Linked DNA regions of Homo sapiens. The protein of the gene in region 1 interacts with the protein of each later gene in a pairwise test. Each region holds a gene or a part of one and is shown on either strand. Other genes may lie near its edges. The genes, in order: THBD, SLC19A3, AIG1 and PHF24.

What was found.
Region 2: the proteins of THBD (region 1) and SLC19A3 interact in binary tests that used the Homo sapiens proteins (3 or more experiments, as listed by UniProt).
Region 3: the proteins of THBD (region 1) and AIG1 interact in binary tests that used the Homo sapiens proteins (3 or more experiments, as listed by UniProt).
Region 4: the proteins of THBD (region 1) and PHF24 interact in binary tests that used the Homo sapiens proteins (3 or more experiments, as listed by UniProt).

Annotation. Positions count from the first base shown.
Region 1 is NC_000020.11:23,046,661-23,053,753, forward strand, and holds the start of THBD (thrombomodulin precursor), read right to left. Parts: upstream 3,013-7,093; 5' UTR 2,845-3,012; coding exon 1,117-2,844; 3' UTR 1-1,116. UniProt on the Homo sapiens protein: Endothelial cell receptor that plays a critical role in regulating several physiological processes including hemostasis, coagulation, fibrinolysis, inflammation, and angiogenesis.
Region 2 is NC_000002.12:227,715,025-227,722,255, forward strand, and holds the start of SLC19A3 (thiamine transporter 2), read right to left. Parts: upstream 3,005-7,231; 5' UTR 2,919-3,004; intron 1-2,918. UniProt on the Homo sapiens protein: Mediates high affinity thiamine uptake, probably via a proton anti-port mechanism. Has no folate transport activity. Mediates H(+)-dependent pyridoxine transport.
Region 3 is NC_000006.12:143,056,434-143,063,904, reverse strand, and holds the start of AIG1 (androgen-induced gene 1 protein), read right to left. Parts: upstream 3,017-7,471; 5' UTR 2,980-3,016; coding exon 2,839-2,979; intron 2,692-2,838; coding exon of another isoform or gene 2,689-2,691; exon of another isoform or gene 2,310-2,688; intron 1-2,309. UniProt on the Homo sapiens protein: Hydrolyzes bioactive fatty-acid esters of hydroxy-fatty acids (FAHFAs), but not other major classes of lipids. Show a preference for FAHFAs with branching distal from the carboxylate head group of the lipids.
Region 4 is NC_000009.12:34,961,260-34,968,284, reverse strand, and holds part of PHF24 (PHD finger protein 24), read right to left. Parts: intron 1-7,025.

The DNA.
Region 1 (7,093 bases):
GTTTTATTTTGGTCTACCAGTGACAAGGAACAGTGACAGTCAATTGCTAATTGGCATGAATCATGCAGTTTGAAGCTTTCTTGAACTGTCTCCTGGGAGGTGTTTGTCTCTTCTCTCAATCTAGAGCAACCTTCTGAACATTTTCAACACTGTCAAAAATAAGTAATAATAACAAAAAAGGAAATTGCATAAGAAGATTAGCAACAATTACCATTTTTCAGTACAAATCAAAACAGCAACAAAATTCAGGCTCACTGTTTAAAAGTAAAGATAAATACCTCTTTGGGTGTAATTTCTATGACAGTCCAGCAACATCAATTTAATACCTTTTACATCTCAACCTTTGTTTAAAATTATTTTGCTCTGGGAATCTGAAATTTCAGGATAAATTAGCAAATCTGGTGAAAAAGCAAATGGCCATTTTTATTTTTAGTGTTTTTGTTTCTGTTTCATGTAGGGGTTCTGTCTGAGCAGACAGCTAAGAGCAAAAGAAGTAGGGTCAGGCACAGGTAGGGTGACTCAGGTGAGTTGGCCCAGTTCCTGGGAGGAGAAAACTAGGAAGAATGGGGAATAAGTGGGGCTTGCTTCATAAATGTGAGAGGGCTAGGAAAAAAAAATTCACCAAGATAGTTTACCTGTCACATGACAAGTGGGAGTTTGTAGAGAGAGAGAGACCGGAGAGCTGTGCAAAGTGGATACTGGAGACATACAGGTAAGAACAAAGGAAACAAACAAAAACCTAAATACTTAAAAAAAATAAATATTTTAGTCATCCCTAGCCCACGAGGTCAAGGTCTGCCCAGAAGGCTGCCGACCAATAACGCTCACCCTCCTGCGCCCGGTAGTGAGGACCTGGGACAAATCGCAGTCTGTGTCTTCGTTACAAAATTGCCATCATTGCCCAGTGGTCCAGTGACGTCACGGAAGAGGCCGAGGCTCATTCTCCTCCCTCTAATCACCCCCTCGCCAGTTAGCCATGGAATAGAAGAAAACAGCTTGGGGGGTGCGGGGAGGGTCTTCTCCAGCTGTAATGCCAGCTAAGGTGCTTTGGTAGCAAAGCTGGGGGTGAGGAGGCACAGGCTCCTGGACGGAGCCAGGCTCCTGGACGGAGGCCGCTCAGAGTCTCTGCGGCGTCCGCTCGGTCCGCACGTGCTGCAGCACTACCTCCTTGGAAGGGGCCGCGCACTTGTACTCCATCTTGGCCCTGGCGGCGCCCTGCTTCTTGCGCAGGTGGCAGAGGAGCGCCAAAAGCGCCACCACCAGGCACAGGCTCGCGATGGAGATGCCTATGAGCAAGCCCGAATGCACGAGCCCCACGGCCGGAGGAGTCAAGGTGGAGCCGGGCGTCGGGCTGGGCGGGGGCTCGCCAGAGCCGCTGTCGCCACCGTCCACCTTGCCGGAGTCACAGTCGGTGCCAATGTGGCGGGCAAGGGCCGAGTCGGGCCCGCAGATGCACTCGAAGGTACCGGGGAGGTTGTGGCACACCCCGGAGCAGAAGCCGCCGTTTTCGCACTCGTCGATGTCCGTGCAGATGAAACCGTCGTCCAGGATGTAGCCTTCAGGGCACTCACAGCTAGCCTGGGTGTTGGGGTCGCAGTCGGCTGGACAGGCAGTCTGGTTGCAAAACATCTGGCACCTGTGCGGCTCGTGGGGAATGGGCGCGAAGCCCTCGGCGCAGACGCAGAGGTAGCTAGTTTGGTTCAGGGGCTGGCACTGGTACTCGCAGTTGGCTCTGAAGCACGGGTCCACGGGCTCCACACACTCGCCGTCCACCAGGTCGTAGTTAGGGTAGCAGTGGCACTCGAAGCCACCCTGTGTGTTGACACAGCGCTGCGGACACGGACTGGGCTCCAGTATGCAGTCATCCACGTCCTCGCACCGGTGTTGGTCGGCCGCCAGCCGGTAGCCGGTCTCGCACATGCACGAGTAGGAGCCCGGCTGGTCGGGGTTGGGAACGCAGAAGTGCTCGCAGAGGTCGTTGCAGGACTGCGTCGCGGATGCGGTGCAGGAGCGCCCGTCTGCCTGCAGGGCGGCGCCGGCTGGGCACTGGCAGCGGGGAGCCCCAGGGATCGCATTGCACGCGTGCTCGCAGCCGCCGTTCTCCACGCTGCAGTCCCAAGCGCCCGGCGCCTCCCTGGCCCAGTGCCCCTGGACCGCTCCGGGCGGCGCGGTGCACATTAGCTGTAAGCCGAGGGGAGCCACCGCGGCGGAGCTGCCCACCGGCAGCGCCTGGAAGTCCGCTCCGCGGGCCGCGAACGGGGTGCCGTAGGTGATCGAGACGGCGGCAGCCGCGGCGCCGGGCTCCACAGCCAGTGGCCTGCAGGTGGCTGGGAAGTGGAACTCGCAGAGGAAGCCATCGGCCTTCACTTCGCACTGCTGCTCCTCCCAGATCGGCTCGCTGGGCACAGTGGCCTCAGCAGCGGAGACAGCGACGCACAACGGGCCGCAGAGGGGAGCCCCATTGAGGTCGAGCCGTGCCCACCTGCTATAGCTGGTGTTGTTGTCTCCCGTAACCCACTGGAAGCCGCGCAGGGGCCCGAGGCGCTTGGGGTCGCCGCAGCCGGGTGGCAGCTGCAGGCCGATCCAGAGGCGCCGGCGGCCAACGCCGCCGTCGCCGTTCAGTAGCAAGGAAATGACATCGGCAGCCACCGAGGAGCGCACTGTCATTAGGTGGCCCCGCAGTCCGTCGCAGATCTGACTGGCATTGAGGAAGGTCGCGGGGCCCGGGTAGAGCGCGAAGCAGTCGTGCTCGACGCACTGGCTGCCACCCGGCTGCGGCTCTGCGGGTGCGGGGAACCCCAGGCCGGCCAGGGCCAGCGCGCCAAGGACCAGGACCCCAAGCATGTTACCCAGGCGCGCCGCGTGCAGGCGCCGGGGAAAGCGCGGGCACTGCGACAGGGCCGTGCCGGAGCAGAGGGGCACAGGACGCCGATGGCGACAGCCTCTCCTGTCCGTCCCAGCCCAGACACTTCTTGCCGCTGCGCGCAGCCCCTGCGAGGCAGCCTCTGACATGCGGATCGGCCAGGGCTCGAGTTTATAAGTGCCCGGCCCTCCCTCCCTGGACGTTCGGGAAAAGGAAGGAAGTGCCTGGTGGGAAGGGCTGATGCCGCATACTCGGATTGCTGGGTTCTCTGGCCGCCCTTGCGCCCGCCCTCGCGCATGGGATCACCTCGCCGGGATGAGTAAACCCTGCCCTGGCGCAGGGAGGTTCTCGGGCGGGGCCGACAGGGGCAGGCGCCAGGGAAGGCCAGCACCCCTGTAACAAGACGACTGTCCCCGCCCACCACTCGGGCCCCCACGCGTGCAGCCCTCTTTCATCTCTTGGTCCTCCTTTCTTTCTTTTCATACATGTTACAGCCACTTCCAAGGAAAGCCTGGATTGCAAGAGCTCTGGGAACCGGAGACTTCAGAGAAGAGGGCTTTGAATGGGGAGTGGGGGAGGTGGTGCACAGGACCTGCAAGACGCTGGGAGGGGTGATCGGCACCAAGGGCACTTTGGGAGGACCTGCCTAGGACGTGGACTTCCCCGAAGACAGGATCGCAAGGAGAGACAGCTGGATCCTGTCCGCGGCCAAGGTGCCTGGCTCAGGAAACCAGCGGAGCGCGCTTGGCCTCACAGGACAGTGGGTGTGGCTGGGGTGACGGGGCAGGGTGGGGAAGACTGGCCTAACACCAGCGCCCTCTGCCCCATGGCTGGCCAGGGACCCGCGAGTCCCTGGACACGCACTGGCCAACGCCAGACCCCATCTCATCGGGTGGGGAAGTCGCGGGGACACTGTCAGGGCGCCGAAGTCCGGACCCGGCTCAGAGGCGGTGGCAGGTGAATTGCTGCGGCGCCGGGTAGGGGCGGGCGCGTGGGAGCGAGTCAGCCTGGCCAGTTTCGGCCCAGCTTCCGAAGGATGGTGCTTCTTGCACCCCAACAGAGTGGCTGGCAACCCCCCAGGGGAGCGCGCAGGATCCCAGCTGATCCCACCCGGGTCGGCTAAGGAGGTTTCCATTTCGTCCAGAGTCCGAATTGATACCCACGTGCATAGAAACGCCACTTGCTCGGCAAAGGGCACTGAAGAGCCACCGTCCTGTGGATGGGCAGGGTGGGGGGGGGGCTGGAGGAGGACATGGGAATCCGTCACTTTCGACCTCTTCCGGTGGTTCACTTACCGGGAATGCGGAAGAGTGGGTCTCCCCCTCGGGTCGCCCCCATAATGGTGAGAGGCAAACTGTTTAAAAACACCCTTGCCTCTCTCCTCTACTGTCCTCACAACGAGCGCCAGGGGGCGGCGCTGTCGAGCTCTAAACAAAGCCAAGGAAGTTGGAGAAGTTTCGGGCTAAAAAGGGTTAAGGTGTAGGAGCACAGAGTCCTCCTTCTGGGGTTGGAAGCTCCGTTCCCGGGCAGCTCAGCGTGGATTCCGCTGCGTTCACCTCTTGCCTCCAGGGCCCAGTAGATCCTGGGCTTTAAACAAGAACAGAGAGTATGGCGTCTGCCACGTGCGACAGACACGCACCGGTGGGGTGGGCCGGGCTGGACTGGACTGACCTGCAGTGACCAAACGGGTGGGGCGTGGACACTCTGAAAGTGAAAAAGGCAAGCACGACTGTCCCGCCGCACACTCCCCAGCGCCTTGGGGCAGAGAGCCTCCAAACGTCCCGCTGAGTTGAGCTCTTCGCTGGGAAGGCCGCCCCAGCACCCAGGAAACGAAGGAGCTGCTGGACACGGGGGTCTGAAGCTCCCGGAATGCACACAGCTGCGCCTCCCCTGACGCGGACCCCCTGGGAAGAGGAAGGGAAGAGCGGCAGATAGCACAGTAGGGCTTGTCCGGCGGGAGCAGTCAAGCTGTGGCTGCCTAGGCTGAATCAGGGGGTCGTGACTCCGGTGCACAGCCTGCCTACGCGGGACGCAAAAGCAGGGCTGCCTGCGGTGCCGCCATGGGGGTGAGGGTGGAGCTTCAGATAAGGGCAGGAACCTCGTTGGGGCACTGCTGAAAGGTCTCAGAATGTGGGGACAATTCCCAGAGTGAATGAGACAAGAGAGGGGGACAGGATCGGTTACAGAATCAGAAACCAGTGCAAAGTGAAAATGTGGGGTCCATTGTTCAATTACAAGGATTCAAGACTGTGATAGCAAAGTGTTAAACAAGGAATGAGGCCCTGGGGGGGTGATGAGAGGGCCCTTCTGAACCTGCCAGCCCTAAAAGCCACTGAGGGACATTCAAGGATCAGATCTCACCCCACACCAGGCTGGCTGAGTTCTTGGATGGATTCTAGCTGATTCACCAACACAATGTTTCACTGGACGTCCTACACAGGTCCACTTGCACCCATTGCTGATTCTTGCAAAGAAAAAAAAAGTGTGAGAACAGCCCCAATAGCTGAGTCCACTAAGAACTCAGTGATGTCTGTGAAACTTGGATCAACCCTATATGAGGAGGTGCAGATGTTGGATGTTTCTGTATTAGAAAGAAACTAGAGCAACAACAGATAGAAGCAGAGCATTGTCCCATGGGGGGTACCACAGTGTCTGGGTTGCCCTACACAAGGATGGGTGGACATGACCCACTTGGCTTTCCCACCTGTAAGGGCTTTACCCCTGACCCTCAGGATACCTTTGCCTTGTGGGGCCTGCCCTCAGCCGCTTTGTTTTTCCTCTCCAGCCAATACCTTGGAGGCTTTGCATATTTTAGACTACCTTCTGGTGACTGAAGGTCCCCTGTCTGTGTTCTTGCCCCATCCCTATCTTCCTATCTGTGCCCCCTGCACACCAGGGTGGGCCACTCCTTCCTATCCCTTTGCAGATAACACATCCACTTCCCAATGCTTGGCCCAGTTCCTGGCCCAGCACCCTCACTCTGGCCCACCAGCAGACTTGCTTTACTCCTGAAACAGCTCCCTTGAAGAACACCCATCTGGTCCTAAATACTGTTGCCAAAATCTTGTTTTCAGCCATCCTTCTAGAAGCCTTGGTGCCATTTGCACTTGTGACCCTTCACCATTCTCAAGGCTCCTCCTCCAATTACTTTTGAGACACATGTTTTCCTCCCTTCCTCTCCTGTGAGCCTTGGGGAGGCCCCTGGGATCCTCTTGTACCACCCACTAGAGTGGCCATTCTCAAGGTTTTGCTGGTGGTCTTCATCATCTCTTTACAACCCACCTTTTGGTGAACTTACCCATTCCCCTGGCAGTGATAGCAGTGTCCAAGGAGATTGGGGAGGGAGTATTCTAGAAGGGACCCTTACCCCATCTTTCCCAGTATCAATAGTTGGTCCACTGAGGTTTTAAACCATGCACTTGCCTTTGACTTTCTGCTCTCCTTCATCCACTGCCTAGTTTTTGTGTCTTGTTTCCCCTGATCACTGCTCCTGCCTTCTCAATTTATGCTGAGACAGTTGGGTCCCCAGCTCTTTTCCTTGCTGCTTATCTCTCCAGCTCTCCACCGTGGCTGAGGCTACTCTGATCCTCATACTCCCTCAGTGCTGCTCCCACCCGCTGGGAGAGCCCATACTCTTTCCCCTCCGCACTGAAGATGCTCGCGATAGTGCCTCTACTCTGTGGCCACAGATGAGAAAATTTGCACTCAAGGGGCTATGCTGGAATTTGGACCCAGAGCCTGCACCCCTTGCACCTCACAAGGCTTCAAGGACCAGTGTTCTGCTGGTCTCCATGAATGAGGAAACATCCTGGCAAGGGAGGCTCCTGCTCACTGTCAGAGAAGCACCTTGTCCGCTCATCTCCACCCTGTAGTTCATGTCTCTCCCTCTGCTAGCAACATTCTCGTCTGCCAGGCTCTTCACCCACTGAAATCTTTCCATTCTTTCAAGTCCCAGTTCAAGCTTCCCCATCAGCAAGTTTTCTGAATAACCCAACCAGAACTGATCTGTCTGTGATTCCCATAGACAGGTCGTTCTCTCAGCTCTTTAGTACTCACCACTCCCTCCCTGCCCTGTACCTAATCATGCATATACCACACTTTTTGCTGCACTTATACTCCAGATTCCCACACATTTTTGTATCCCCTTACACCTAACAGCACGCTTTGTAACTAGACAGTGCCCAGAGCTTATTGGAGCACCTGTGGTAGATGTTTCTTTGTCCTCTCCAG
Region 2 (7,231 bases), on another chromosome or scaffold:
GGTCAGGCTGGTTTTGAACTCCTGACCTCAAGTGCTCCACCCGCCTCAGCCACTCAAAGTGCTGGGATTACAGGTGTGAGCCGCCGTGCCTGGCCTTGCCCTGACTATTCTTACTAAAGTCACCTAATTTAGCTTCTATAGAATTTTGTGCTAAGTGACCTAGACTCTCAAAAAACTACAAAGTAGCCTTATCACCCATCTATAATCCTTTATGTCAAACCCCACACCCCCCCCAAAAAAAAATCTTTGCTGAAATAAAGCATGCCACACAACTTCCAAAGACGTAAACTAGACCCAGATATTCAGTATGTGGGCCAGAATAGTTCTGTTGTTTGTTTTTGTAAGAGCAGAAACAAGTGATATTTTTAAAATTTTATTTTTAGTAAAGATGGGGCTTTGCCATGTTGGCCAGGCTACTCTTGAACTCCTGGCCTCAAGAAATCCGCCTGCCTTGGCCTCCCAAAGTGCTGGGATTACAGGTGTGAGCCACCGCACCCAGCCCAAGTGATCTTTAAGATGCTTCAGATTTTATTTTATCATATATGGTACCATTCCTTTTAATTTGCATGAGGTGTTTGCTGGTAAATTAATCATTTCCTTCCAAATTCTGTTTATTCTGTTATGTCTATGTTCAGATCAATCTAGTCTTAGGGAGAGCAGGAGGAATATGCCTAAGAAAACCATAAAACTAAGAAAAACATAAAACGGCTTAGAAAGTCAACTGAGCCCAGCCTGGGCAAAATAGCGAGACCTCACCTCTATAAAAAATACAAAAATTAGCTAGGCATGGTGGTGTGTGCCTATAGTGCCAGGTAGTTGGGAGACTGAAGTGGGAAGATTGCTTGAACAGGGAAAGTCAAGGCTGCGGTGAGCCGAGATCCCAGCCACTGCACTCCAGCCTGGGCAACAAGAGCGAGACTCCGTCTCAAAAAAAAAAAAAAAAAAAAAAAATTTCAAAAACCCCAAACAAAACAAAACAAAAAAGGAAAGTCAGCTGACATCTAATCCTTGAGATGCAGTGAAAGTTTCTGATTAAATGCACTGAGAGAAGGTGGTGTTGTAGGGAAAAAACTGGATTAAAGAAAAATTAGAGGTCATTTGAGCTATTTTACAACTCTGTAAATTTTAACAACTGATGGCAATGTTAAGTAATTATTGTCTATAGACATGCAAATAAGGTTTATCCCATGAAGGACAACAGTCTTCCTTTCCCCCATGGAAAACCAGTTTCAATATTCCTGATCTATATTTCATTATTCAATATTCCTGATCTACGAATGTACCCATTCTTTGGGTTCTTCTTTGATCTGGCTACTACAGACTCATCAGTTTCGTCACTAATAAGTGCCGGGACTCAGAAGCCGATACCCCAAAATATGGGGCTTTGACATGCTGGAGACCTCAAGGTCTCTCTGACCTTCCCGGCTCCCAGCTCAAAAAAACCTTTGTCTGCCTAAGATCCAGACCCACCAAAAGGAACAACTGTTTCTTTTCCCTTCCCTGTAAGACCAAGAATATACCCCACACCTGAACAGACCCATTCACAAGATAATGTAGCTTATTCTCTCCCCTGACCCATTCATGCTCCCTAGCAGAAGCCCATCCACTTCTGCTGGATGCTCTTCGGCTCCCTCCCGTAACCTCATTTGCCAGGGTAGTCTATAAGCTTCTGAGACATGTTGCAGGGTGGGTAATCAATCACTCTGATTCTCCCTGTGTGCATGTTAAATAAATGTGTATGCATTTACCATTACACAACCTTAAAAGAGTGTTGTTGGTCTATTAGCAATAATGACTGAAGGAAATTGGTATTTTTGTCCATTTCAGCTACTACTAGGATAATCTTATAAGATATTTGGGAAGTTATGTTTTGGTCTATTTAATATATGTGCCTCGATGAAAAAAACACCTTTTGCCACAGGAGACACCAATGTTTCAATATTGATAGGAGCAAAACACATGAGAGTGCTTTTTTTTTTTTTTTTTTTTTTTTTTTGAGGCAGAATCTTGCTGGGTCGCCCAGGCTGGAGTGCAGTGGTGCAATCTTGGCTCACTGCAACCTTCGCCTCCCAAGTTCAAGCCATTCTTCAGCCTCAGCCTCCAGTGTAGCTGGGATTACAGGCACCCGCCACCATGCCCGGCTAATTTTTGCCTTTTTAGTAGAGACGGGGTTTCATCCCAGGGCCAAGCTGGTCTCGAATTCCTGACCTCAAGCAATCCGCCCCGCTCAGCCTCCCAAAGTGCTGGGATTACAGGCGTGAGCCACTGCGCCTGGCCTGAGAGTACTTTTAGAAAACATTATTCCTTTACCTTTTTCAAACTTGAAGCACTCCGAAAGTCCCAACCTTTTGCACATTTGCGGCAGCGACATTGATTTGGTAAACAGCTGTCACACTATTTATTATTTGATGACTTAGGTATCCTTTCCAGCAGTGTTTTTGTAAGGTGTAGTTGCGTTTTCTTTTAGTTTCAATTAACTAAATTTCAAGTGGTTCCCAAAAAAGCCCCTGCTCTCTTAAATTCAAACTCACCTTCCTTTTTCCCACTAGGAAGGACCTTTTCTCCATCCTTGGATTGGAATTTGGAATTCTATGCTAAAATGCCTTTTCAGTTAAAATCTGTGAACGTGGGATGTAACCATAGGAGGTGCTGGCACTTTACGGGAATCATGATTTTATTTAATCTGCGCTTCCAGAAGGCTGCAAATGGGAATTCCAGACAAACCCACTTGGGTGAATCCCAGCACGCGGGCTGCGGCGTAGGGGGAGAGCTCCTCACGCGGCTCAGAGTGTAGCCCAGGCCCGCAGAGCCAGGAACCCGCCCCCAGCTCTCCAAACCCGGGAAGAGAGAGGCGACACTGCTAAGACCGAGGGATGACGGTGCTTCTTCAATTAATTCGCCCCCCGAGATATTCTTACCTACAGAAGGGAGTGTCTGTTCACCAAATCGCTCACTTGCCGCACGACCACGCACCCGCGGCTGTCGGATGGATCCAGGCGCTCTTGGTGGGAAGGGGGCGGAGCCTGCCTGGCCCGGAGCCCGGGGCCACGCCCCCACGCTTTGCATATGCGAATCCGGGCGTCCAGACCTTTCATCCCAGTGTGGAAGCCCAGATTTTCCTGGCCCAGGGCCGGTTTTCTGGGCAGAAACAGTCAACTCTGCTGAAAGGAACAACTTAAGTAATACACTGACATTCAGCATAATGAAGCAAGAGGGCCTGAATCCAACAGCGATCGTTTGCTTTATTTACAAATATGTCCTTTCTTATGAATCCATTTATTTCTCTCCAAAAGCTTAGGAGAGAGGGCTGGCTGGCTGTCACCCCCACTCTACACATGAAGAAAGTGAGGCGGAAGGAAGTAGGCCTAGTAAATAGAGAAGCCTGGGTTTTAGTTGGGGCTCCTGGCTCCAGAGCCAGTGGTTATAATCACTCTGCACTTTTTTTTTTTAAAGGAGGTAGAGTGGGATGGTTTCCTGGCACTTTGAAAATCTGATACAAACAATTTTTTCTTTTCTTCTTCTTTTTCTTTTCTTTTCTCTTTTCTTTCTTTCTTTTTTTTTTTTTTGAGACAGAGTCTCCCTCTGTCGCCCAGGATGGAGTGCAGTGGCGCGATCTCGGCTCACTACAACCCTCCGCCTCCCGGGTTCAAGCGATTCTCCTGCCTCAGCCTCCAAAAATTAACGCCCAGTTAATTTTTGTGTTTTTAGTAGAGACGGGGTTTGGTTTCACCATATTGGCCAGGCTCATCTCGAACTCCTGGCCTCGTGATCCGCCTGCCTCGGCCTCTCAAAGTGCTGAGATTACAGGCGTGAGCCACCGCGCCTGGTCTTTTTTCTTTCTTTCTTTCTTTCTTTTTTTTTTTGAGATGGAGCCTCGCTGTTGTTGGCCCCGGGCTGGAGTGCAATGGCACGATCTTGGCTCACTGCAACCTCCACCTCCCGGGTTCCAGCAATTCTTCTGCCTCAGCCTCCCTAGTAGCTGGGATTACAGGCGCCCGTCACCACACCCAGCTAATTTTTGTATTTTTAGTAGAGATGGGGTTTCACCATGTTGTCCAGGCTGGTCTCAAACTCCTGACCTCAGGTGATCCACCCGCCTCGGCCTCCCAAAGTGCTAGGATTACAGGTGTGAGCCACAGCACCCGGCCACCTGGCCTCTTTTCTTTTCTTTTCTCTTTCTTTCTTTCTTTTTTTTTTTTTTTTGACAAAGTCTCACTTTATCTCCCAGGCTGGAGTGCAGTGGTGCAACCCCAGCTCACTGCAACCTCAATCTCCCAGGCACACTGATCCTCCTGCCTCAGCCTCCCAAGTAGCTGGGCTTGCAGGTGGGTGCCACCACGTCACATTAATTTTTTTGTTTTTTTTTTTTGGTAGAGACAGAGTCTCACTATCTTGCCCAGGCTGGTCTTGAACTCCTGGGCTCAAAGGATCCTCCTGCCTTGCCCGCCCAAAGTGTTGGGATTACAGGCATGAGCCACTACGCTTAGCCTGCAAAGAGTTTATATATTAAAGTGAAACTTCTTATTAAACAGAGAATTTTTTTAAAGCATTACAAGGTTCTTATTGGTTAAAATGGAAAAAATATTTTTATTTCTGTTCATCTCTTGGTGGACTTGAAAAACCCTCCCTAAAGATAAACACTGCGTGGCTTCTAAGGGCTACCAGTGGAAGTGAAATGGATTAAAACACCCCGAGGTGTCTTGGTTCTCTGTCCTACGACTCTGCGTTTTCTATTTTCATCTTCCTATGATTTGTGAAAAGTCCTGAGCTGAACCTTAGGTGTAGGAGTGCCCTGCTCATTGTGCAACCTTGCAAATTGCTGGGTCCTCCCAAAGAATATTGTGAAATTTTCTTAAAGGCTGAAGGTGTCATGATTTCCTTCACACCTCTTGAAGAAAATGAGTTCAAATTGGACCTTGAGAAGTTTACTCTGATTCTCTAATATCTCATAGCCACAGTCTAAATCAGAGAGAGATATTGAGGAATTCATTCATTCATGCATAGAAACATAAATGACACATTTGCAGATTACATGACATGACATTTGAGTTTGATCCCATACGACTGTGTGGGGAGAAGGCTGTGGATGGGGTCATAGATGACAAAAGATTGGCTGTGTGTTGATTATTGTTGACTTGGGCAGTAGTTCTTAGAAACTGATTGCACTATTTTCCATTTTTGTATATGTTTATTTTCCATAATACAAAATTGTTTTAAAATCATTTATTCTGACTGGGCACAGTGGCTAATGCCTGTAATATAGCACTTTGGGGAGCCGAGGTGGGTGCATCGCTTGAGCCCAGGAGTTCAAGACCAGCCTGGGCAACACAGTGAGACCCTGTCTCTACAAAAATACAAAAATTACCCAGACGTGGTAGCATGCGTCTGTAGTCCCAGCTACTTGGGAGGCTGAAGTGGGAGATTGGCTTGAGCCTAAAGAGGTGGAGGTTGCAATGAGCTGAGATCACACCATTGCACTCCAGCCTGAGTGACAGAGCCAGACCCTGTCTCAAATAAACCCATACACAAAAAAGAAAAAAAAATCATTTGTTCATTAAGAAGTTATTTATTGAGTAACTATGTGCCAGACACTGTCCTAGGTGCTTGGGATACATTCGTGAACAAAGCTAAAAATCTCTGCCTTGTAATTTACATTCTAGCTTGGGATGGGGTATATAGAGGGAACATAAATAGTAAACATGATGAGTTAGTGAATTTTATAGTGTGTTAGAAAGTGGTAAGTGCCGTGGATCCCACTGAGAAGAGGATGGAGAAGATGACTAAGCCTGAGGCTTGGAGCTCCAACTTGGGAAAGAACCTACAGGGAGGCTGAATGAGAACAGTAGGAGAGGGAGCCATAGTGTATTAGGGAGTTGCTCAACACTGTGTACCTCCCTATTATACTTCCTCTTGCACTGTTACTAAAAAATGTGGCTGCAATTATGTCCATGAAAACCTATACAAGGCCAGGCATGGTAGCTCACGCCTGTAATCCCAGGTGAGTAGATCACCTGAGGTCAGGAGTTCGAGACTAGCCTGGCCAACATGGCGAAACCCCATCTCTACGAAAAATGCAAAAATTAGCCAGGCGTGGCGGCACACCCCTGTAATCCCAGCTACTTGGGAGGCTGAGGCAGAAGAATCGCTTGAACCCAGGAGGTGGAGGTTGCAGTGAGCCGAGATCACGCCACTGCACTCCAGCCTGGGTGACAGAGTGAGACTCTGTCTCAAAAAAAAAAAAAAAAAAAAAAAAAAGTCTATTTGAATAGTTGATATAGGAGTGGAGAAAAGGTGGCCAGGCAAAGAAAATCTCACATTAGGATTACTGCAAGTAGGCTAATTTATCTGTTTCACTCTTAAATGTTAACTCTTTGAAGGCAAATATTTGTTTAGTTTTTTTTTTTTTTTTTTTTTGAGATGGAGTCTCACTGTGTTGCCCAGGCTGTAGTGTAATGGGTCGATCTTGGCTCACTGCAACCTCTGCCTCCTGGGTTCAGGGGATTCTCCTGCCTCAGCCTCCCGAGTAGCTGGGATTACACGCACCTGCCACTACGGCCAGCTAATTTTTGTATTTTTAGTAGAGACAGGGTTTCACCATGTTAGTCAGGCTAGTCTCAAACTCCTGACCTCAGGTGATCTGCCCGCCTCGATCTCCCAAAGTGCTGGGATTATAGGTGTGAGCCACCGCACCTGGCCTTATCTTTAGATTTCTATCTTGGCTGGATAACTGGCCTAATAGAGCAGCCACATATTTGCTGAGTGAATGAGTAAAAAACACATAGAGAGTTGGAGAGAAGCTGTGACCTGCCGTACTGGGACCATCCAACACTCCCAATCATAAATCAGTTGCAGATGTTGGAGCTCATAAACCGATAACACAAAATACAGTGCCTTGAGATACCGAACTGCAGAAGCCTAAGGGTCTGTCTGATCTCCCCGACAAGGTCTCTTCTGAAGAAGCTGAAGTCTTCTGTCTGCCTAAGATCTAGACCCACCAAGGGGAACTATGGTTTTTCCTTCCCCTCCTTGTAAGAGTAAGAATGTAACCACACTTGAATAGACCCTCTCACAGTCAAAGAGAACTACTTACAAATTAATCTCAGTACCTGATCCTTTATTGTCCTTCAGCAGAATTCCTCTTCTTCCTCCTCCCATAATGTGTTTAGCCAGGCTGGTAGATTGAAGGGGGCCAGCCTCTCCACACCTGTGGGTATTTCTCGTTCATCTCTTG
Region 3 (7,471 bases), on another chromosome or scaffold:
GACCCTCATACCCAAGGAGAGAAATGAATACAGCCAGAATGGCCACTGCCACATAATCATCTGCTCCTGGATGCATAGAGCCTGAGATTCCTGACTCAGATCCTGGTAAACTGAAGCCATGGAATATGGAATCCAACTGTGGCTATCAGGATAAATGATTCCTGCAATCCAAGTTGGCTAGAAAAAAGGGCCTTCACATTACAATTTTAAAAAGTTAAACTCTTGCAAAATTACTCCAATAAACTTAGACTCATTAATATTGTACAAGGCACTAGGTAATAAAGTTTACGGTCTTTTTAACATTAAAAGTGAAAAGTAAAATGGCTAAATTATAGTAGCCTAATCATTTCATGCCATTACTGAGGATTGACAGGTTGGTTGTTTTAACAGCTGTACAATGCTTAAGCTCTAAGGATTCTAAATCTCAAATAATAAAAAGAATAACACTTTGCATGAATGTTTTTATGAATATATCTCAGACATACTTTCTCACAGGCACTCTTTGTTAAAGATAATTATTATGTTTCAATCAGGAGCCACAGAGTAAAAAATTACAACGCTGGCTAAAGGTCCTATACAATCTGAAGCTAAATATGAAGCAAAGTAAATGTTTCACATTTGAATCTACTGTCTGACTTCTGGGATAGAAAAAGTCCTGTATGGTGATTAGTATTTAAAACAGGCAAGTCCAATCATTGAATGCTAAAAGATAAATTATATGACAGCATATCAAGCTGACTCTACTATGGTTTCATGTCACACAAAGGTTATGAGAGGTATATCATTTCTTCTGAGCCTTGTTTTTCAATGCACAGTAAGCAATGCTAATTATGAAAAGCAGGCATCTCTTGGGTTAACCAACACCCTCAATTTCTACCTCTGTTCACCTGCTGACCCCTGCCTTGCTCCCACAACACAGCATCTACTGCAAGAGTGATGCTGAGGGCTGTTTCTAGAACCTATGGCTCCCACAGCATCTCTGTATTCTTGCCCAGCACTGCTCTTTAGCAACATTCAAATAGGCCAGCTCTAAGTAAGATCTGACTTAGGAATGGGATAAGGCAGTGTCCCAAAAGGAGTTTTGCTCACATAGCCCCTCAAAGAATTCTGAAAATCTATGCACATATTTTTAAATAACATCTCAACATCCTTAACATAGTTAAGTGTAAACACTTGAAAAAGGGACATCTTTCTGGCGCTCTATGGGTGGTATGCTTGCTTCATATACATATGCATCAGAACCTCAGGGTTGCAGATTTAGCTCATTCAGTATACAGAAAATGTCTGCTACACAACATAATTGGCAAAGCCAATCCTCATTGACAAGCCAATCAACCCAATAAGACTTTCTGTCAAGGCAACTCCGACATTGTTGTTCAATCAAATATAAAGATAGCCCTGGTGACAACCATCTATCTTCTGGAAGCTAAAAGGAACAGACAGAAAAGCACACCTCAGAGTCTTGTCACGGGCTCCTCACTTGGATGAATGGGGAGAATGAAAGGAGAACTGGCAGGCATCACGCATGTTCAGAGGGAAATTAGTTTCAAGCAGAGTTGGAAGATGAGGATCTGAAAATTAAAACCCTTGCAACATTCTATACCCTGTGAAGTCTTGTGGGCCTAAGGGTATGTGCACAGTTTGGAGACTGCTGGGCAACAGAATTGAAATTCCACTCTGAAAGTATCTAATATAATGCAAATATAAGGTGTTATTTTTAAACCAAAAGCCTCTCTGCATTTCTTTGAGGCATCCTAAGCCTTTGGAAATTTTTAAAACAGGTATCATGTTCTCTTCATCAGAATGGAGGGTCAACAAGAGATTATAATCTTGCTGGTGTAGCCAACCAACTGTATAGTCTTGGATAAACAGTTCAGGGAGTCCCAGGAATTGGTTCTACAATTTCTCTGAGTGCTTTAGAACTTCATTGCTTTTGTTTTAAGCCTCTTCCTAATAATCTTTTAGCGTGTGTCTTAGTCACCTTTACCCTGAAATTCCTAGGTCCATCCATGAGTTCATTATTGGGCCTTATGCCCATGTTCTGTTCTCCAGGGAGGTTGAAGAGGGCCTTTTAGTGCCAGAAATAGAAAAACTTTCAAAATGATATACTAATAATAACCTGCACCTGTCAAGATTATCATATTGTGCCAACAGAGGAGCTGCTTATGCAAACTACTGTAAATTTGTACATGGGAAGACAGAGAAGTGTGTACAGTCACCTTGGAAATGCACTTTGAACATCTCTGTCTCCTAATATGTACGGGGTAAAGGTTGAAAGTAAATTATTGACAATGGGGGAAAAAAACAGATGCAAAGAAGACAACTTTATTAGGTGCTTTCTCTCCCTTATGAGAAGGATTTGGTTCTTTCAGGTGAAGTTCCAAATCACTAGACAATACCCAGTTTCCTTCAGTTGCAACAAGTTCATCCCACGGTGGGTGCTCTGAAAAGCACCTTGAGGGCGAATGGGTCTCAGGCCATTCAGGATCAGGTCCGATGCTTTTGTTGAAGATTCTTCCCGTGTCACCTCTTAGAAGCAGTTCGGTGTCCCCCTCCAAAGAGCCCACCACCTGGCTGCGCCCCACCTCCATTTGTCCCCCAGTTGCCAGGTAAGGGTACCCAGCTACCAGGTAACGGTGAGTGGTTCAGAAGGTGCCGCTGCGGGGGCAGCCAGGCCTTCACACGCAATCACTGGGGAAGAGGCGAGGACACGGGTGGATGCTGGAGGCGCGCACGTGCGCAGGTGCTCGCGCATCCACACACACACACACACACACACACACACACGCACACACAGGCACGGGGTGCGGGGCGAGCAGGGGGAGGGGACGGCCTTACCAGATCAATGAACGTCAGGAATTTCCAGCTCCCTCCGTAGGTCTGGTGTGAGGGCATTTCGATGGCCTTGTAGTTACACAGGATAGAGCAGTAAGACAGCAGGATTGCCATCCGCAGCACCTGGCAGGGGACAAGCGCCATGTTCGCCAGAGGCCTGGACCGGCTGGGCGGCAAGGAGGGCGGGCGTGAGGGAGGCGCCGGGCGCGCGGGGGCGGGCGCCGTGGGAACCCGGGCGCGGGCGCGGGCGCGGGGCGGGGCGGGGCGGGGGCGGGGGCGGGGGCGGGGCGCGCGCCCCCGGGGACTGGCGCGGCCGCGAGCGCCCGGGTGACCTGTACTGGCCGGGCGCGGTTTGCGGACGCTCTCCACTGCCGGCCGCGGCCTGGCAGGCGGCGTGTCGTCATCTCTTTCGTCACCTTCGTCATTCTGCTCCTGCGTTCGCAGGGTCCCGGGACACCCGGCCAGGAGGCGCCCCCTAGGCATCCCAGGTGTGGATGCGACCTCTGAGTGCTACGAGGGCTCGGGAAGTGCGCGCTGATCTCCAGGGGGAAGCGGGCCCTGTGGCTAGTGGGCGCCGGGCCGGGCGAGGGGGCGGGGAACCTAGACTGAAGGAGTGGACCCCAGTGTCCACAAATGTTCCCGCCCCGGAATCGCGGTGACGCTTCCTGGGGTAGTTGCAGTTGGCCGAGAGCTGGTGCCCCGTGCGGAGGGATCCGGTGGGGGTGTGAACGTGGGGTGTAAACCCGAGCACAGGCAGCCGCGAGTGACTTTCAGTATTTTGGGGCAATAAGGTTTTCAGTGTTGACAAACGACTGTCAATCACTAGGAAACTCTCTCAATTCTGCTTTCAATGGGTAGGCTACGCAGCACTTTTCCATGACAGATTGAATAATGTCATATCAGTATATAACATCAGCTAGAATATGAACTTTGGACAAGAGGTTTATAGATAAAAAGCTATAAAGAAAGGATTTTCAAATAACTTTCTGCCACAAGATTGCATTCAGCTTTAAAAAATTCCAATTTTGGATGTAAAACCCCTGCGTGTAATTTAATACTAATCATCTGGTTGTTAAACTGGTTTTGCCCTTACTTTTTTCTTACACTACACTACCAGGGCTTAATGGAAGGAAAATAAATATAAACTGGAGTCCCTCCTGCCTTCCAGTAAATGTTGTCACACTGAAGTTGCATCAGTCTGTGGGCAACATTTTCATTTCAGCCAACCAGTTGCAGGTTCGGATTATGAAAAGGCAACATAGGTATTTCCTGTGGATCCATTTAAAACAGGTGTCCTCTTCAAATAGTCTCTGAGTCAGAGGATGTGGAGGGAGGGCTGGTGGGGAGAAGCATAGTGCTAGAGGTAAAGAGAAAGTAGCAAGCAAGCCATGGATGTTTTCCTGAATGTTTCCAATCAAGCTCTAAACTAAAATGAAGAGACCCACTAGATTTTTTTAATTGGCATTATAATTATGCTAATAGAACTGATGTCAGAAGAAGATTCTACTAGCATTAAAACGATGTATTATTGATGATTTTTGGTTAAATCTTAATGTAAAAGTTGGCTTTATTTTTTTAATTGTGCATCCTTGGTACATGGTTATAAACTGCCAAAAAAATAAAAATAAAAAAGAGTAGATCTATTGAAGATCTACCTACCTTAATAATGTGTCTGGAATTGGTTCCTGCCGGTAGATTAGTGGTCTCAGTGACTTCAAGAATGAAGCGGCAGACCTTGGTGGTAAGTGTTACAGCTCTTAAAGATGGCACAGACCCAGAGTGAGCGATAGCAAGGTTTATTGTGAAGAGTGAAAGGACAAAGCTTCCACAGCATGAAAGGGGACTGGAGCGGGTTGCTGCTGCTGGCTGGGGTGGCCAGCTTTTATTCCCTTATTGTCCTCTCCAGTGTTCTGTTTCTGTCCTATGAGAGTGCCCTTTTTTCAGTCCTCCCTGCGATTGGCTACTTTTAAAATCTTGCTGATTGGTGCGTTTTACAGAGTGCTGATTAGTGTGTTTTACAGAGTGCTGATTGGTGCTTTTTACAGAGCGCTGATTGGTGCATTTTACACTCCTCTTGTAAGACAGGCAAGTTCCCCAAGTCCCCACTTGTCTCAGGAGGTCCAGCTGGCCTCACCTCTCAATAGAGCCTTAATAAAGTTTTATGAGTTAATGTGATATTTGCAAAGTTTGATATACCCTTCCTACTTTACATGTTAGACAATTATTAAGACTCCCCAACCCCATTGTTACAAAATGAAATAATATTTTCATAAAGCCATTTTTAATGGTCAGGTTTTTTGTTTTGTTTTTCTTTTTGTTTTTTTGTGAGACAGAGTCTAGCTCTGTCACCCAGGCGGAAGTGCAGTGGCATGATCTCAGCTCACTGCAACCTCTGCCTCCTGGGTTCAACTATTCTCCTGCCTCAGCCTCCCAAGTAGCTGGGACTACAGGCGCATGCCACCACACCTGGCTAATTTTTTTTGTATCTTTAGTAGAGATGGGGTTTCACCATGTTGGCCAGGTTGGTCTTGAACTCCTGACTTCAAATGATCCACCTGCCTCGGCCTCCCAAAGTGCTGGGATTACAGGTGTGAGTCACTGCGCCCGACCAGTTTCTTTTAAATAAATAACTATAACTCTTAATTAAGTATTTAGAACCTATTCTGCTGGGTTTGCTTTTGTTTTTTCATGATTTGCCAACCATGATCAGATAGTTTTGTGCTTTAAAAAAATGAAGCGTTTGTATAAAACTTGACTCAAATACTATTTTATGAGAATGTCAGTTCACAATTTTTGGAACTTCTTGATAACTATTAACATGTCCAGGCTTGCTTTCTGTGCTTTTCAGACCATATCTAACAATCTTAGTCATGTTTTACAGATAACTTTTGTGGAAAATATTAATCTACACACATTGTGTTTTTACAGCGTAAACAATTGCTTTTAAAACTTCATTAGGTAAGTTATTACTTTTTATGAACTATAATACATTATTCACTTCTAAGTATTCTTATGATGATTCCATATTTGATTTAGATAATACTGTTTTCTATGTATAGAAGAAATATTTGCATGTCTTTTTTTTTATCTTTTTCATTCTACTACACAGTTAGTGAGACTGGAGGAGAAAAGCCTCATCCAGTTGAATTTCATCAATAGCAGTAAACATAAGAAACACCAAGGGAAGATTTCAAGAACCCGTTTTAGCTTCAAGCTATATTCTTTGATTGTTGTAATATTTCTTAGACTATATATGGGGCTGAAGATACCCTTTCTTAAGTACTTCTAATAATTGAGACAGACTGTTCATTCCTTTTTTTTCTTTTGGAGGGGGGGTGTATTAGTCCATTTTCATACTGCTATGAAGAAATACCTGTGATTGGATAATTCATAGAGAAAAAGAGTCTTAATGGACTCACAGTTCCACATGGCTGGGGAGGCTTCACCCTCATGGCAGAAGATAAAGGAAGAGCAAAGTCACATCTTACGTGGTGGCAGGCAAAAGAGTGTGTGCAGGAAACTGCCCTTTATAAAACCATCAGATCTCCTGAGACTTATTCACTATCACAAGAACAGCACAGGAAAACCTGCCCCCATGATTCAATTACCTCCCACCAGTTCCCCCCCTACAATGCGTGGAGATTAAGGGAGCTACAATTCAAGATGAAATTTGGGTGGGGACACAGCCAAACCGTATCAGGGAGGATGTCTGTCTGACATACTGATGATAATACCTGTTAATTTGGGAAATGACTGGGACTCCTATGTCACCCTTAAATTGTATTCCAAGAAGCCAACTTTATGTAACTATTGGTCGTTGCTTAAAAGTTCAGGAGGAAGAATTGTGTTTATACATATCCTTGCAGTATTCGATATTTACACATTTCCTTTGGTTCTGCATTTACATGAGATAAGCATTTTCTAACAATATCAATATATTTGGAACAAATTTTTTCTCCCCATTTATCTGTACTTCAAGGGTGAAAGTTAGGACATGTCCCCCTCAGAGGCCTGGGCATGGAAAAAGTCTTCAGTATTACAGAAAAGATACCTCTGAATTATTTTTATTCATTATAAATGTAGCGTATTTATGATACTAAAATGGAAACGCTACTTTTAAAAAAACATTTTCCCCACTCTCTCCACCCAGAGAAAACAATGAACATTTTAGCATATTCCTGCAAGTCTTTTACAATATAGAGTTAGCTGATTGTGACATACTATATAACAACTTGCATCACAGAGATTTCTTCTGCCTCAAGTTTAATAGCAATTTTCTCCTATTTAAAACATTGTAAAACTCATGTTTAATGATTGCATAGCACAACATCATATGGACATATATTTTGCTTAAACTTTTTTTCTTTTTGGATATTTATGTTCTTTTAAAGTTTTCACCACTAAATACACAGTAATGTCTGTATTTTGAATTGAGAAAGCTACTTTTTAGGATTATATGGAACTCAAAACCAATTAAGAAACTACACTTCTAGAACCTACTGTGTGTTGTTCATGTTTGTTTATATGAACTGAGGTGACAGAGTTCTTTTACCCTGGAGGGCAGTTGGGAAAGATTAAGAGAAAGAAGTAGGTAAAAATTACTCTTTTTTTTCCTTACAATTGATGCTTATTACAG
Region 4 (7,025 bases), on another chromosome or scaffold:
TTAAGAAATCTTTTTTTCATTAGCTGGAAACAAATATTAAGCAATAGGGAAATAAATTACGTACCACGAAAGACTAAACAACACGGAAAACACTGAGGTAGAAGTATATTTATTGGTGGGAAAGATACTCAAAATATGCAAACATATTAACAAAAATAGCAAGTTACAAAAATGCTCATGTTATGATCTAATTTTTGTACTGTATGTACTTTTAATCTTTTTGTAATCTATATTTTCCAATTCTCCCACATTGCACATTAATTAGATAATAAAACAAATCCTAGGGTTGGCAACTTGATGACTTGTTTTTGTTTTGGGTCCCCTGTTCTATGATTCAGAACCTGTTGCTGGTTGCTTTGGGCTTTAGTTCTCTGTCTGTTAATGAGTGTATTTGGAACATATAGTCTGAAGCATTTAGAATGCTCATGTTGTTTTTCATCTTCTTTTAAAAGTTCATATGATCTAATGAGGGAATCTAGCCAGGGTGGGGTGGGGATGGAGAGAAGAGTATGTATATGTTAAATTTTTTGCTGAGGCTTTGGACCCAGTGGGTTCTTGAAGTGACAGGGCTGGCCCTGTAGTCCCCAGATGCTGCTCAAATGCCTCATGGGCAACAGCGTGTTCGATGGCTGGGTGGGATGCAACTCCCCAACTTACAGTGACAGAGGTACCCCAAGAGAGAAAATACAAAACTGACAGATAATTCTTCATATTTTTATTTGAGCATATTTTTATTATGAGCAATTACATTTTCCAGACCACTAGGTTTTCCTCAGAAACCCCAAGGCATGTTTCTCAAAACTTTCAACTGTGGCTCAGAGTAAGAAATATATTTTTTGTGATAACCCTGTAGACACATGTGTTTATAGATCTGCAACTGAAGTCAAAATTTTGTGGAACAATCATACTTTTACTACATGTGATGCTCCCTGATATTTTCTATCCTATTTCATTAAAACAACCCTGATAGTGACTCTCTGAAATGATTTCATGACCTACTAATGGATTTAAATCTGCAATTTGAAGAACGCACCTCTAAAAGACAAGGATATAAGGAAAGTGCTGCCCTTAACTGATGTGGTGAAAGATGAACAGTTTATTCAAGCTTCTCTTAGGAGTCTGTGTGGTTGGAAGATCCACCAGAGATGGACAGCTACTAATATACCTCTGACTAAAGAAAACCTATTGTATCCAAGAGGCTGATGCTCTTTCACCTGTGGGTATATGTAAAAAAAAAAAATTTAGCTAGGCATAGTGGCACATGCCTGTAATCCCAGCTACGTGGGCAGCTGAGGTGGGAGAACTGCTTGAGCCCAGGAATTCAAAACCAGCCTGGCCAACATAGCAATACCTCATCACATTAAAAAAAAATGATTGATTGGAGCATTCTTTTTACAGTGATTAAAAAGATGGAAAGAAATTGGGCATGGTGATTTGCTCCTATAATCCCAGCTACTCGGGAGGCTGAAGCATGAGGATTGCTTGAGACCAGGAGTTTGGGTCTGTAGTGTGCCATGACTGTGCCTGTGAATAGCCACTACACTGAAACCTGGGCAACACAGTGAGACCCTGTCTCTTAAAAAAGAAAAAAGGTGGAAACAACCTCAATAGGGAAATTACTGAATAACTTGTGATATATTCATGCTATTAAAAAAGAGAAAAAATGATTTAATTATTTATTTTGAGATGGGGCGAGGGGGGGGGTCTCGCCATATTACCCAGGCTAGTCTCGAACTCCTGCACTCAAGCAATCCTCTCACATAGCTGGGACTACAGGTCATGATTGATAATTTTTGAAAAATTTCAAGCAATCCTCTCACATAGCTGGGGCTACAGGTCGTGCTAATTTTTGAAAAATTTTTAAAGAGACAGGGTCTTGGTATGTTGCCCAGACTTGTTGATAACTCTGGGGCTCATGTGATTCCCTGCCTCAGCCTCCCAAGTAGCTAGGATTATAGGTTCCAGCCAGAGTGCCCAGCTTGATTTAATTTTTTAAACACAACAACCAGAGCAATGATTCTCAAGTGGTGAATTGGCTGGATCCTGTGGCAGGTGGGAGGTGTATATCAGAAACTCCGGGAGGAGGGGAGAAATAAGTGAGTTTCAAGAGCTTATCAATTATGTATTTATATTTGGAAAACAAGTATTAAAAACCATCTCTGCTTTTTTTGTGTGTGTGACATAGACTACAAAACAGTGAGTTTGACAGTATCTTCTTTGTTCTTAGGGCTATACGGAAGGTACTAACTCTCCAAATAGTTGGAGGCAGCCTCCTCCCAGGAGTTATATCACAAGTTTTAGGGAACAGTCAAGAGACTTTTATGTTTATCAGAAGGTCTGATAAACACTGGAAAAAAATAGTTGAGAAACACTTATTTGGAGATCTGGAAAAAAAATACTAAATTCACATTTTCAAGAACGATTCATTAGAGGAAAACCAATGGTATGCCTTTGTTTTTGGCTTTTTCAGATGCTTTAATAAAAGTTATTGAACAAAGACCAGCCAGTTAGGAAGTTACTCTATAAATGAACTTACTCATTAACAGAGAATCATCAAATTAATCACAGACACCTCCCAACACACTGTAGATCCGCTACAACCCATTATTAACTGTAAGGATACCATTATTCTTTATAAGGATACCAAGAATAGCTATGAAGCTATCTCCATGGTCAACTATGTCATTGCAATGGTTTTGGGAGTTTATCCTTAAAGCAATTTCTATGAAGACTGAAGCTGACATCTACTAGCAAAACAAACATAAAAACAAACGCTTTCCAGTCCTAAGCACAGGCTCTTGGAGCACTGCTATTCCTTTTAGCTGAGATGGTTCAATCTTGTAGACCATTTTATGCCTGTAAGGGCAGAAATGCAAAGTAGAACTATTCACAGTAAACCATCAAAATCCAAACAAGACCATCAAGTCATTTTGAATTGACATGACTTTGACTTTGACAGTAAACTGTGAAGACACAACAGAATTCAGCTTTAAAAGCGAGTCTAAAACTCTTAATACTTAATGGAGAGGATCAAAACTGTATACAAAAGACACTTTGATTAAAAGTGTGTGTGCTGAAATATCCAAAAAGTGCACCTGGGATGTTTGAGAACTTAACAAAATCAGCTCAAATTTTTAGAGAAACAAGTGGTAGTGATTGGTGCCAGGTAAAAACAAATGCTTGTGGATAAAAACCTGGCCTCTCCTGTGCTGGAATAAGTCCTAGGAAAAAGAGAGAGTTAAAAGGAAATCAAGTTGCAAAGATCCCACAAATTATACCTAATGATTACTTCTTTCGCTGGTGGGTGGGACTGGGGGTTTCTGCCTCCCTAAAAATGACGAAAAGAGGCCAAAAAGATATTGTCCCAAGAATTATGTGGCTGTCAGGGAATTTGTGGTATCTAGGGAAGGCCTGGAAAAAAACTCAGGGGAGAGGAGCAGGTGATGGTATATAACAGCGGGACAAGAAGGTGGAATAGGGCCGTCTGACTTCATGAACTGGAAGAAATGAAAACAGCAACAAGTAGAATCTGTCTTGGGTAAGAGAAGCATGTCTAGATGTGTTTGTCAGGCAGTAAGACATTTGTGGGCAGCTTGTAATGTTTGCAAGACACACCCATTTTCTGCAGAGCACCTGCTTAGAATTCAGCGGGATTATTAATAAGGGCAAAGTGGTGGGAGTAAGAGGAGGAGGGGCTGCTCTGGAGCAGGAGCTGATAGAGAAATAAGGAAGGGGAAGGAAGCTGGGGAGCCTCTATTTCCCAGCACTCTGTATAAAGATTCAGAGCTGTGGAGAGCCTGAAGGGCAACACTCCTAATAGGCAGGAGTTTCCTCATGCAGCCTGTTAAATGTAAAGTACATTTACTGATTTTCTCTTCTTAAAATTTATGTTTTCAGATGGAGGGTGGTTCTAGGGTCTCACTATGTTACCCAGGCTGGCCTCAAACTCCTGGGCTCAAGTGATTCTCCTGCCTCAGCCTCCCGAGTAGCTGGTTCAATCTGATTCTTGGTATGGGGATGGAGGCTATTTAAAAGGCTCACAAGCAAGTAAAAGTGGCTGCCTGGAGGTTAGGGCTTCCCTAGGAAGGAACAAGGCAAAGAAAACCTCTGAGTGAGGGGAAAGGGAAAGACAACCAAAGAGAATAGGTTGAGCAAGTGGAGTAAAGGAATCTGTGTTTCACTGAGATCAGGAGGGAGAAAAGTAGAGATGGTTCTTACTGACTTCCACAGAGCATGTGAATTAAAGTGTCTTTTGTATACAGGTTTGATCATCTCCATTAAGCATTAAGGGTTTTAGCCTCTTAAATCTTTGTTGAATGAATGATGCAGAGATGACTGGGCAACATAAACAATTTATTTAAGATCATAGTGTCTTTTCTCTTTATCAAATTGGCCAGAGACTAATGAGACCAAATCTCCAAAACTCAATTCTAGAAACTATGCAGTCACCAGCTCACATCATCACATCTACTCTACTTCCCAAGAGGTGGCACCTGGACAGTGAGTCAGGGCTAGCAGGGATGAGAACACGAGGATGATTTCTCTCTGACTACAGAGGAGAGTTAAGAAATTCTGCAATTTAGCCGGTTTCTACAATCACAATGGTAAGAAAAGAGAAGCCAGTATTACCAAAGTCAACAGTCCCCTGCATTTATGCTGTGTCCTGTGGACTATGGTGAGGCCCACAGGAGGGCAGTTGCCTTAAGGACACAAGTAGAAAGTGTGAAAATGCACTTCCTTTGTCCTGGGTTTGAAATTTAGCACGAGCAGTATCTGCACATACAAGTGAAAAATTTCAAGGTGGTCAACAATTGGCTCCTGGAAGCATGTGCCCAAAGGGCTGAGAGCCTTAGGAAAAGCCATATGCCTAACACAGAAGGTGACCAGCTGCAAGAGTGTGGAAAATCAACACAACCAGGGTCTGTAAAAAAACAAAACAAACGCTGAATGCATAGCACAGACTCTGAGCTTACTGTGAACATCAGCATCAACCTCAAGATTTTAAGCAAAAAAAAAAAAAAAAAAACCATCAAAAAGAGTTCTCGTGCGGGTCTTTGAGGAAATCCAAGCCCCGAGGGGTCCGATTGTTCTCCAGTGACTGGCTGTTGCTTTAGGAAATTCCAGTGCCTCACTACAGTGCTCTTGGAGCCTGTTCCTACTCAGACATTTTGTCACCTGGCAGTAGCCTAGAAACTAATTTTAGTATTCATGTTTGTAGACCCTGAAAGGTCTACCTGGTACCTCCCCACCTCTCTTCATTCAGCCTGTTTATTCAGGATGAGACAGTCACAACTACATGGGGCTTTTCTGGGGTTTCCAAGGAACAGAAAGGCTAGACAGAAAAACTGTCTTTCTGGCCTCAGCTCAAGACTACAAGGCATCCTGCTGCTGTTTAATATTTACTGAAAGCTCACAAAGTTCTAATATAGATGAGAGCAAAATTATGGCATGAGCTTAGCCTCTTAGGGCCTGAGTCTTCATTAAAAGCCACAGTGCTGACTTCCCACAGAGGCAGAGCAACAGTTAAGGAACATCACACCATCAGTGATTGGCTGGTGAGACTGCACTTAGCAAGCAGAGCTTTTCAGCAAGATGGAGAGGCACTCCCTGTTTTCTGCTCTGGTTCCCTGAAACACAGATTCAGCCCCATGTAATGCAATTATTACACCTTAATTATCACCATTTACTTCTCTGTTGATTCTGCAAACTTTCGCCGAGTACAGCCTACTATGCGTCAGGCACAAATCAGGTGCTTAATAACTGATGGTAGAATGAACAAATGGAAGCTCATTCAGCCTGTGAGAATGCAGTGAGTATGTGCGTGTGCAGGGGGCATAAGTGTAGGATTGAAAAAAAAAAGGTGTTGCTTGAGCTAAATTTTGAATATGAGTAGGAGTTACATCAGTGGATAAGGAAAAAAAAAAAAAGCATTCCAGGAAGAGGTAACAGCACATGCCAAGGCATGGAGCTATATGGGGACTCCATCATGACTTAGATGGTATGAAGCCAGCCTGGGGGCTAGATAGAAATAGGCAAGGAAACGTGTCTTCACATAAGAATTAGCATCAGCCCAAAGAACTGGTTTGAGATAGTATGCTTAAAATATTTGTTAGAATATGTATTTGAGTTTCAAGGAGGAAGAAAATCCCAGAGAATTGGATTTGCTGAGGCCAGGAAGAGGGACTGCCCTGATAAGTTCCAGCGCTGACCAGTGAGTGCATTGTTTGGCCTTAGGACCCAACAGGAAACTCCTTCGCAACCTAAGAGCTCGTAGGTGGTGACTGTAGTGAATCACTGGGGCTTTCCCTCTGGGAGACTCCTAAGCCTCAAAAAAACAAACATACAAAAAGAGAGAGAGCCAATTAGCCCACACAGCTCTGCTTCAGTGAGAGGACCCCAGTAAGATGAAGCATTTCTCAAAACCAAACAGCCAACATATATCTAAAAGGGCTTCATAAACTGTAACATGCTATCTAAATAAAAGGTTCTGTCATTACTATCATAAGGAAGGCAAAAATGTGGTCAGTTTACACTCAGAGTATATGGGCAAAAGTAATTTTGGCAGGGCACTGGCAGGAGGGCTGAATGTGGCTGCCAGAGGAGGCATAGCACAGCAGCTGAGTTTCAGTGATGCTTGGGAAAAGGCATACTCTATATTGGTTCCTGTGGATATTCTGTAATGCCATAATTTCCCCCTTACTTTTCCTACTCTTTATAGTGAATGATTAGAGAAATGCAGACTGATTCTATGTGAACTCCTCAAGGGCAAGAAACTCTCATATTTATCTAGCATAGTGCCTGGCAAGTAAGTAGCACTTAGTAAATGTAAGTGAGTCTCTGAGGGGATTGCTGGAAGAGTGGGGAGAATGGAGGGGGATGTGCTAATGGAAAAAATAATCATGTCTTCAGCTGGACACTGATGGTCTTGGTTTCTTGGTCCAAAGCTGGCAAGCAATTCCTGTCAGAATTTGGTCATTAAGATTGAGGGGTGGAGTGGATAATGATATTCCCATCAGAAATGAATA